2 separate regions of the Homo sapiens genome follow, and region 1 is linked to region 2. Evidence: fine-mapped expression QTL. A gene starts in region 2. The other region holds a variant in brackets. All regions are shown on one strand. Distances are from middle to middle.

The links.
Region 1: its variant is fine-mapped to the expression of HMOX2 in whole blood (TOPMed, PIP above 0.99).

Annotation. Positions count from the first base shown.
Region 1 is chr16:4,501,570-4,506,941 of GRCh38, forward strand. HMOX2 (heme oxygenase 2) reads left to right here. Exons shown (of 6, transcript NM_002134.4): 2 at 3,915-4,041; 3 at 5,326-5,372. The coding sequence starts at 3,956. Among named protein-coding and RNA genes, the nearest start is that of HMOX2, 28 kb to the left of the region's middle. The variant G/A (reference allele first, on the strand shown) is at 3,026.
Region 2 is chr16:4,474,228-4,479,599 of GRCh38, forward strand. It overlaps HMOX2 (heme oxygenase 2), which reads left to right and starts at 2,171. Exons shown (of 6, transcript NM_002134.4): 1 at 2,171-2,260. NMRAL1 (NmrA like redox sensor 1) reads right to left here and starts at 398. Exons shown (of 6, transcript NM_020677.6): 1 at 327-398. It overlaps LOC124903636 (a long non-coding RNA gene), which reads right to left. Exons shown (of 3, transcript XR_007064964.1): 3 at 5,037-5,334. RefSeq lists an enhancer at 1,967-2,468.

The DNA of each region.
Region 1 (5,372 bases), 27 kb after region 2:
TTTTCTCTTTTGTGGGGGTGGGGAACATGTAGCTTCTTGTGGATATTAGACATTGAAGTCTAAAAAGGTTCTATATTTATGATTTGGCCCTCAATTTTCTAGAGATTCCAATGGTTCCTGCAAAGAAAAGAGCATTCAAGTATAGAAACCAGCCAGACTAAGTCTGGACATGTAGCTTTTCAGAAAGTGAAAAAAAATTATGTTTCTGCAGTTGCAAGGTGGCCTCTGAATGCCACACTGTGTGGCCACTCCCTTGGACAGTGGCTAGGCCACAGGGTCGCCTCCCCTGGCCCCAGTCTGTGGGTTGAATATGCTAACCGAGCCTTCCCAGGAGCCTCCTCTGCCCCCAGCCCCCAGGTCTGTACAGATGGTAGTTGGTACTTTCAGCCCGCCTTGAGAACTCAGTATTCTTCCTGTTAGCTTTCCTTCAAAGTAAAATCGGTAGAACCTATTTTGAGTGTAGAAAATTTGAAGTCGTGGACAGCAGATTACAAAAAATTGCCCACCACCATGCCTGGCTCATTTTTGTATTTCTAGTAGAGATGGGCTTTCACCATGTTGGCCAGGCTGGTCTCGAACTGCTGACCTCAGGTGATCTGCCCACCTCGGCCTCCCTAAATGCTGGGATTATAGGTGCGAACCACTGTGCCTGGCTCCTTTTTGTATTTTTCGGAGAAGCACAAGGACTTGTTGTTTAATTAAGCAAGACTATACTCTCCCAGAGCATGCAGTTATTATTGAGTAAAACACAGTTAATGAGATTTAATCACGTTCCCTATCACTGTTGTGCAGCATGATAAGTAGGTGCAAATGGCAAGAAGCACGCTGAAGTTACTGCAGTTGGTAACCTGGGCCATGGATGGCACTTGTCTTTGCCTCATTTTGCCTGTAAGAAGCATGGGGCCTGTGGTCCTGGGGTACCTGGACCCTCAGCCTGGTGTGTGTGTGCCCTCAGCCTGGTCCTTTACTTCCATCACCCATCTAGAGGCTCCAGGACCCTTTACTGCACCCCTCCCTCCTCTAGATAGCTCAGTGTTTTCATCCCAGCACCTTTTTCTCTGCTGCCTGAGAACTGAGCAGCCAGAGACAAATTTTGGCTCTCAGGGTCCTCAAGGGTGTACAGCAAAGCTGTTCTTATTATTTAAAGTATTTTATTTATTTATTTTTGAGACAGAGTCTTACTTTGTCGGCCAGGCTGGAGTGCAGTGGCATGATCTCGACTCACTGCAACCTCTGTCTCCCAGGCTCAAGAAATCCTCCTACATCAGCCTCCCAAGTAGCTGGGATTACAGGCTGGAGTGCAGTGGCTCCATCTCGGCTCACTGCAACCTCCGCCTCCCAGGTTCAAGCGATTCTCCTGCCTCAGCCTCCTGAGTAGCTGGGATTACAGGTGTGTGCCACCATGCCTGGCTAATTTTTGTATTTTTAGTAGAGACAGGGTTTTACCATGTTGGCCAGGCCGGTCTCGGACTCCTGACCTCCTGATCTGCCCACCTCGGCCTCCCAAAGTGTTGGGATTACAGGCGTGAGCCACCGCGCCCGGCTAGCAAAGCTGTACTTTTACCAAAAAAAAAAAAGAAAACATTTATAAATCAAGGTCTGAAGGCCCATGTGAGGCTTATTCTACAGCTTGCAATGCCTGTTTTTGCCCCTTGGTAAGTGGACGCACAGCTGGGCAGCCTTATGCTATCTCTGTGAACTACCCATTTCTGGCTTTGTTCATAATATTCCCTTGATCTGGAGGCCCTCCCCCAGCCCTGCCCCAAATCCTGTCTGTGTTGAGGGTCCTGCCCCAGGAAGCCCTCTGCATACTCTTCCCTGCATGTAATACCTGCCTGCTTTCACATTCTTCTAGACTGTGCTGTGCATCGTACAGTTCATCAGCATTATTGCAGAGTAGAGTGTCTCTGATTTGGAGTCAAGAGAAGGTTCCATTTTTCTGTACATCCCGATGTTTATTTTCTGAGTGTTCTCAGACATCACTAAGCCTCAGTCAAAATAAAGTATGATCATGATGTAACATTCATTGAGTGCTTATCACATGGTAGGCATTGTGCTATATGAGTTATTGCTTGACTTCCTAAAATAATCCCAGTAGAGATGCTAAATCTAAAGGTGAGAGAGATGGTTCAAAAAGACCTCAGTGAGCAAACCATGTACTATAATATCCTAAAAGATAACAAAAATGTAACTAGGTATCTAGAGAAAACTCAGGAAGGATATGTGCCTTGGGCCTTTTAAGGACCATTTCTTAACACTTCTGTGTTCTTCTTGACACCTGTTTCTGGGTAGAGCACATAGAAAATGCTCAGTAAATAAGTTCTTTTTCCTTGGCCCAGTTTGGCCTGATTTGGCCCCAGTTCTGTCTTTGTGAGTTACTTTATTAGTTGTCGGTGCTACTGTGCTGCTATTCATGTGGAAGATTCCCCAAATGGGCTGCGCCTTACATTGCCTGAGCAGAAGCCCCGAGGGATGGAGGATGAGCTTGCCTTGTTATGGGACTGTGTTTCCCTGGCTGACAAAGGCTCAGCATTTGCAGCAGGCAATGGGAATTGATTGGCCAACTTAATATTTCCTTCAGCCTAGCAAAGTCCTGAGTAGGCTAGGGACAGTCTGCTTTTTTGGTAACTCCTGTAGGCTGCCTTCTGCACAAGGCACCCAGCCTCTCACAGGTAGGATGAACTGGCCTCAGCACGCTTGCAGAGGGGTGGAACTGTGCGTTGCTTGCCAAGCTTTTTGTTTCCCTAAGGTTTTTGAGGTTTTCTTTGTTTTTGGTAACTTTCAATTTTTTTTTTTTTTTTTTTTTTTTGGACAGAGTTTCACTCTTATTGCCCAGGCTGGAGTGCAGTGGCGCGATCTTGGCTCACTGCAACTTCTGCTTCGTAGGTTCAAGTGATTCTCCTGCCTCAGCCTCCTGAGTAGCTGGGATTACAGGCACGCGCCACCACATCCGGCTAATTTTGCATTTTTAGTAGAAACAGGGTTTCTCCATGTTGGTCAGGCTGGTCTTAAACTCCTAACCTCA[G/A]GTGATCCACCCACCTTGGCCTCCCAAAGTGGTGGGATTACAGGCATGAGCCACCGTGTCTGGCCTAACTTTTAATTTTGATACGGTCTTTTTTTTTTTTTTTTTTTTTTTTTTAAGACAGTTTCGCTCTTGTTGCCCAGGCTGGAGTGCAACGGCGTGATCTCGGCTCACTGCAACCTCTGCCTCCTGGGCTCAAGAGATTCTCCTGCCTGAGCCTCCCGAGTAGCTGGGATTACAAGTGTGCACCACCATGCCCGGCTATTTTTTGTATTTTTAGTAGAGACAGGGTTTCACCATGTTAACCAGGCTAGTCTCAAACTCCAGTCTGCCTCGGCCTCCCAAAGTGCTGGGATTACAGGCATGAGCCACTGTGCCCTGCCTTGATACAGTTTTAAGCATACAGAAAAATGGTAAGAATAGTACAAAGAACTCTCATACCTCTTCCCCAGATTCACTGCTAGGATTTTGCCTTGTTTGCTTTTCTGACTTGCCAGTGTCCCCCACCCTGCAGCATATGCACATGCACACACACTGTCTTCTGAACCATCTGACAGGGAGTTGCAGGCAGTGTACCTTTACTTCTGAATACCCCAGTGTGTATTTCTTAGGAACAAAGACATTCTCTTATATAATCGCAGTACAATTATTTTTAAAAACCAGCAAGCTTAATGTCAATACAATGCTATTACCTAATACATTGTTCATATTCAGATTTTTTCCATATTCCACTATGGTCCCAGTAATGGCAGAGCTTTATTTTAAAGAAAACAATCCTGGGGTGTGTGGGTGTCACCTTGGTTACATTCGCTCTGAGGAAAGCAGAACCGACAGGTATTTGGGGAAGTGACTGCCGTGGGTGCCACATCACCAGCTCCTTGTGTCTCTGCAGGACCAGAGGAGCGAGAGCAGCAAGAACCACACCCAGCAGCAATGTCAGCGGAAGTGGAAACCTCAGAGGGGGTAGACGAGTCAGAAAAAAAGAACTCTGGGGCCCTAGAAAAGGAGAACCAAATGAGGTGAGCGATGGGGGCTGGCTGCACTGAATCAGGTGGGCCCAGCACCTGTCGTGCTCAGCACACCTGGTTTTGTCTGTTGGCAGCACTGGGGAGTGGCCATGGGCCATGAGCTCTGGACCCCTGGGTGCCTGCTTGGCCCTGCAGGGACCGCATACAGCTTCGGCTGCTTAGAACTCTCCCCACTGGTCCATTGTCTCATCCAAGGAGGCAGGGCAGGTGCTCCTGGGAGTGCTGATAGGATTTGATGGTAGTTATCCTTTTTTCTTTTTAAAAACTTGTGCGTTTCCTCATCTGGGCTGAGAAAGGGTAAACGCAGGCAAAGCTGGCTCTGTTCAGTCTTTTACCACATAAAAGACTGCAGGGCAGCCTTTCCTTACTCTGTATAGGGACAGCTCATGCTAAACCTGAGCTTCCAGGCCCTGTTCTGCATCATTAGCCTCTCATAGCCCTGTCATTGGCCAAGTTTTTTTTTTATCCCTTGAAATAATTGCTAATAATAAATTGATTCTCAGCACATGGATGATAACGAGCTAATCTCCTAAAGAAGACAGCAGAAGCCAGACCATGATAAGGCCAAATTTTTCTCACTCTTGTAGATGGATTGTGTGGACACATGTAAGCCCCTGCCCAAGTACCACCATCTTTAGGATCACATGTTTTCTACCTTGTCCATCCATCCACACACCTTTACAACTGTGTAATTTCGTTAAGCAGCACAAACCCAGCGTCCTGGCCCTAGCCTCTCGGTTGTCTCCTTTGCATCCTTCCGTGCTTGGTCCTAGTCACATATAGTCTCAAAGAAGCTGTGGGTCCAAGGTGGGAGGAAGGCAGTAGGGCCATCTGAGGAGACCCATGGTCACAGCCTTACTGAGGTGTGTGAATTCCAGAAGACACGTTCCAAGGCAGGCTGTTCTTAGAGAAGCCAGCAAATACTGAAGGGAATACAGATGTGTGTCTCTTCGACCACTAGGTGGCCACAGAAGCAAAGCATTGCTCATTTGGGTGGTTCCCAACACAGACACATGGACGTGGGTACTACTCTCAAGGAGCAGGCCACAGTTATCCCTTGTGTCCTGAGTCCTTGGAGCAGAATGTCATGTCTGCTTGTCCTGTGTTCCCTGACAAGTTGCTGCTATTTGTGTTGGAGTGAAGTGTCTGAGAAGCCCCAGCCTCCAGTACAACAGGTGGTCACCTTGGGGTGTGGACTCAATCTTCTCTCTATGGTCCTTTCTGGAAAGCTGGGAAGGGCTAATTGACACACAAACACCTCCCATCTCTCCACAGAATGGCTGACCTCTCGGAGCTCCTGAAGGAAGGGACCAAGGAAGCAC
Region 2 (5,372 bases):
AGGACACCCCCATTGTCTATGCATCGAGTATGTGTCGAAGGGGGCGGCTGGGCCCGGAGCGGCAAGACGCCTGTCCCGAGATATCGGGGTCCCGCGACCCACCTCGTGTCCCTTGGGCCCGATCCCCTCCTCCTTCCCGCCTCCCCCGGTTCCAGTCACCCGCCCCCCGGCCCGGGTCCCACCGGCTGGAGTGACCTCCTCGCCGCGGCCTGGGCGGGACAAGTTCCAGGAGCCCGGGACCCCGATTCTGCGGCCGAGTCCACTGCAGAGGCGGGGATGGAGCTGCGCGCTAGGCGCCAACTCCCTCCCCGCAGCTCCGGCCCCACCTGGCAGAGCGCCGCTCACGGAAGCCCAGCGTCGGAGGACCCCTGGCTGCAGCCGCCAATCCCGACGTGTCGGCCGAAACCCCTCCTCCGGCGCAGTTGGCTCCTCCTGGATCCCGCGGGACTCGGCGTCGTTTCCGGGTTTGCCCGCCCCAGGCACGTGCACAGTGAGTTTGTGTAAATCCAGTTAGACCAAAATGAGCGAGGTGGAGAGCCTCTTAACCGGATGCTACGGGTGATGACTGGGAGGAGGAGAAAAATTACCTCTTTATCTTGCATGAACATCTTAATTTTCAGGTATTGGGCGTCAGGCAAAGATAATTAAAGCTATGTCCATGAGTCTTATCCCTTGAGGCCTTGTCCGCTTGATATTTTCTTTGCCTAACTCACTTTTAAAATTTTATTATTTTTATTTTTTTGAGACAGTGTCTTGGTCCGTCGCCCAGGCTGGTGTGCAGTGGCGCGATCTCGGCTTACTGCAACCTCCGCCCCCCGGGTTCAAGAGATTCTCCTGCCTCAGCCTCCCGAGTAGCTGGGATTACAAGCATGTGCCACCAAGCCCGGCTAATTTTTGTATTTTTTAGTAGAGACGGGGTTTCACCAGGTTGACCAGGCAGGTCTCGAACTCCTGACTTAAAGTGATCCACCCACCTCAGCCTCCCAAAGTGCTGGGAGTACAGGTGGGAGCCACCGTGCCCAGCCCTAACTCACTTCTGAAGTTGCTGCTACTTGCACTGATTTCAGTTTTTTTTTGTTTTTGTTTTTTGTTTTCAAGGTGGAGTCTTGCTCTGTGGCCCAGGCTGGAGTGCAGTGGTGGTGCGATCTTGGCTCACTGCAACTTCCGCCTCTTGGGTTCAAGTGATTCTCCTGCCTCAGTTTCCTGAGTAGCTGGGATTACAGGCAGGAGCCACCATGCCCGGCTAAAATTTTTTTGTATTTTTGGTAGAGACGGGGTTTCAACATGCTGGCCAGGCTGGTCTCGAACTGCTGACCTCAAGTGATCTTCCCGCCTCAGGCTCCCAAAGTGCTGGGATTACAGACATGAGCCACCACACCCGGCCCACGATTTCAGTAATTTCTTTGTGTTCAGTAAAACTAAAAAATGACTCTGGGCTGGGTGCGGTGGCCTGTAATTGCAGTGATTTGGGAGGCCGAGGCGGGTGGATCACCTGAGCTCAGGAGTTCGAGACCAGCCTGGCCAACATGGTGAAACCCCCGTCTCTACTAAAAATACAAAAATTAGCCGGGCGTGGTGGCAGGCGCTTGTAATCCCAGCTATTCGGGAGGTTAAGGCAGGAGAATCGCTTGAACCCGGGAGAAGGGGGTTGCAGTGAGCCGAGATCACGTCATTGCACTCCAGCCTGGGCGACGAGCAAAACTCGGTCTCAAAAAAAGAAAAATCATTCTGTCATTCTGGCCGCTGTTTGAAGAATGCGAATAATGCAACAGGGAGATCAGATACAAGACTGGTAACCGAGGTGTCAGAGTTGAGACTCAGTTTCGCAGATTGCATTGGCAAGTGACCAAGTGGGTGGTGCCACGGTTGACAACCCTATTTCTTACATCACTGAGTGGATGTACAAGGATTAAACCACACTGGGGAAGAAAAGTGCTCAACCCTGAGGCACCCTCACACACCTCGGCTCTTGTGAACACTAGTGTTCCTGCCGAAGCACGCCTACTTACCCCGCTGAGCAGAGCCTGAGCCTGCAACCTCCAGAGACCTGGGGAAAGCCACATACTCCGCTTCCCGCCCCCGGCAAGGGCGTGTCAGCTACAAGGGGCGTGTCATCTCTAGGCCCCGCCCCGCGCTGCGTGCCCACGTTGCGCCGGCCTCGCGCCAGTCCGCTGGGCTGCAGGGACTGCGGCGCCTGAGGGAGTCGCTGACGGGCACGCTGACTGGAGGCTGGCGGACAGGCGACAGCGACCTGCGGCAGGTGAGCTGTCCGCGCCCTCCCGGGGCCTTCCTTCCGCCCGGCTTCTCGGACCGCGCTGCGTCCTTCGCGGGCCCTGCCTCGGTCCAGGCCTTCGGACCTGGGCTTGGCCGGGCCACAGCCCTTTGGGTCCCCTGCGCCGGTCTGAGGGGAGACCCGGCCGGGGGCGGCCGGAAGCTGGGTGAGGCCGGGCAGAAGGACGAAGAAGGGCGTGGAGGGGCTGTCAGGGGAGGGCGAAACCGCGGACGCCGCTCTCCAGAAGTCGTCTCCCCGGGGGCGCGGGGAGGCCTGAATGGCTCTCTTTGGCGTCCCCGTTGGGCCCACCCTCTCCCAGCGTCACGGCTATGCTGGGCGAGGTGACCCCCGGGGTCGTAGCTGGGGGCGTCGGCGGTGCAGACAGGGGATGCCGGCAGAGATTGGAGCCCGGCTTGGCTGTTTCCCGGGCTGTTGGCATTGACCGGGGCTCTGCCCTTCCTCTAATGCCCTTATCTCTATAGGAAGTGCCCCTTGAGTGGGTGTCGTGACTTCACGAGTGAACCCTGGTACGCCCTGGAGCAGAGTCGGACTGGGAGGGATCAAGTGTGGGGGCAGCCGGTTAGTCCGGACGCGGGTTTACCTATTACTTTCTGAGCGCAGTGCTCTGGGTGGATTAATTGCCCTGCAAAAGCTGCCGGGACCTCCTTGCAGTCTTTGCACGAGGCCTGCCTGTGTCATGCCATTTAAATCGCGTCTGGGCCGGGTCGGTGGCTCACGCCTGTAATTCCAGCACTTTGGGAGGCCAGGGCGGGCGGATTGCTTGAGGTCAGGAGTCCGAGACCAGCCTGGCCAACATAGTGAAACCCCGTCTCTACTAAAAATACAAAAATCAGCCGGGCATGGTAACGTGAGCCTGTAGCTCCAGCTACTTAGGAGGCTGAGGCAGGAGAATCGCTTGAACCCGGGAGGCAGAGGTTGCAGTGAGCCGAGATCACGCCATTGCACTCCAGCCTGGGCGACAGAGCAAGACTCCATCTAAAAAAAAAAAAAAAAAAAAAAAAAATCGCTTCTGATGAGCCGGTTGTCGTGGCCTGTGGCTGTCCATCCTTACGTACTGTGTTTTGTTGATGGCGCTACAAACCAGACAAGGTGGAGTGTGATTGAAGAAAGAAACGCTGGCCGGTGCAGTGGCTCACTCCTGTAATCCCAGCACTTTGGGAGGCCGAGGCAGGCGGATCACCTGAGGTCAGGAGTTCGAGATCAGCCTGGCCAACATGGTGAAACCCCGTCTCTACTAAAAATACAAAAAAGTTAAACGGGCGGGGTGGCGCGTGTCTGTAATCCCAGCTACTGGGGAGTTTGAGGTTGGAGGATCACTTGAGCCCACGAAGTGGAGATTGCAGTGAGCTGAGATCGCATCACTGCACTCCAGCCTGGGTGACAGAGTGAGACCCTGTCTCAAAAAAGAAAAAAATAAATTATCACAAGACAAAATTTGTGCTTATCAGGAGTTCACAGTTAAGACATATATAAGCTTACTTGGTGAAATTAGAAAAAGTTATCAGATAAAACATTCAGGTTTAAACACTGGTGAGGGTGTGGGAATTTGTGGAGCCTTGGAAACACACTCATTGAATGACCTCATCTACCTGGGGATGTGAAGAGGGAAATCCTGTGATTCCTCCATTGTCTGACTTGATTTCCTTTTTTCCTTGGCTGTGGCAACATGTTGAAGTGCTGTGAGTCACCAAAAGGGGGAACGTGAGCAACTCTAGAAATGCCAGTGCCAGTGAGTTACAGACAATAAAGCATTGACCGCCTTTAGCTCACCCCTCATCAAGTCTGTTGAAAACTTGTAAAATTGGACAGCTAGAGCTACCTTGATTTTTTGGTTTCCTTTTAACAGCTGACTCTCTTCACAGGACAGTTGGGCTCTACATCAGGATTGCACCCAAAACTGGAATATCACTCCTCCAGGAGGAAGATATATTTGAAAATTAGAATTGTGGGCCCGGTGCAGTGGCTCATGCTTGTGATCCCAGCACTTTGGGAGGCCGAGATGGGCGGATCACCTGAGGTCGGGAGATAGAGACCAGCCTGACCAACATGGAAAAACCCCATCTCTACTAAGAAAAAAATAATAATAATACAAAAATTAGCTGGGCATGGTGGTGTGTGCCTGTAATCCGAGCTACTTGGGAGGCCGAGGCAGGAGAATCACTTGAACCTGGGAGGCAGAGGTTGCGATGAGCCAAGATTGTGCCACTGCATTCCAGCCTGGGCAACAGGAGCAAAACTGCATCTCAAAAAAAAAAAAAAGAAAGAAAGAAAATTAGAATTGTGTATTTCACTGTAAAATTTGAAATTCAGCTTTAACTCCTTGGAAAGGAAAGAGATGAAAAACTTGACCTAGACTGGGTGCGGTGGCTCACGCCTGTAATCCCAGCACTTTGGGAGACCAAGGCGGGTGGATCACCTGAGGTCAGGAGTTCGAGACCAGCCTGGCTAACATTGTGAAACCCCGTCTCTACTAAAAATACAAAAATTAGCCTTGCAAAAAGTAGCCTGTAATCCCAGCTACTCGGGAGGCTGAGCAAGGAGAATTGCTTGAACCTGGGAGGCAGAGGTTTCAGTGAGCCAAGATCATGCCATTGCACTCCAGCCTGGGCGACAAGAGCAAAACTTCATCTCAAAGAAAAAAAAATTCTATCAGAGTGAACAATAAGTAGGATGCTAGCACATACCTGTAATCTCAGCTACTTGGGAGGCTGAGGCAGGAAGTTAATACTTGATGAGCCTAAGTTTTTGGTGTCTTTGGATGCTGCTTGTCGATCTAAGGGGTTTCCAAACGCTTCTTTTTTGGTAAAATTGGGATTATGACTAGGAATCTGTTTTTTGGAGTTTCCCAGGTGATCCTTGTTTGGGGTCCTTGTCTAAGGCACAGGCTGGAAAGAGGAGGGAGTGGACTGGCAGGGAAGATAGAGCAGTAAGCGAATAGAATACCTGGGGAAAGGGACGCCAGAAGAGTGATTGTTGTCTGGTGAACTGTGCTGTCAGTGTGTATGTCAGAAGCCAACAAAGTGGATATTCTCTTCACTCAGCTTAGGGAAAAAATTAATTTTTGTTTCACAGATAGATT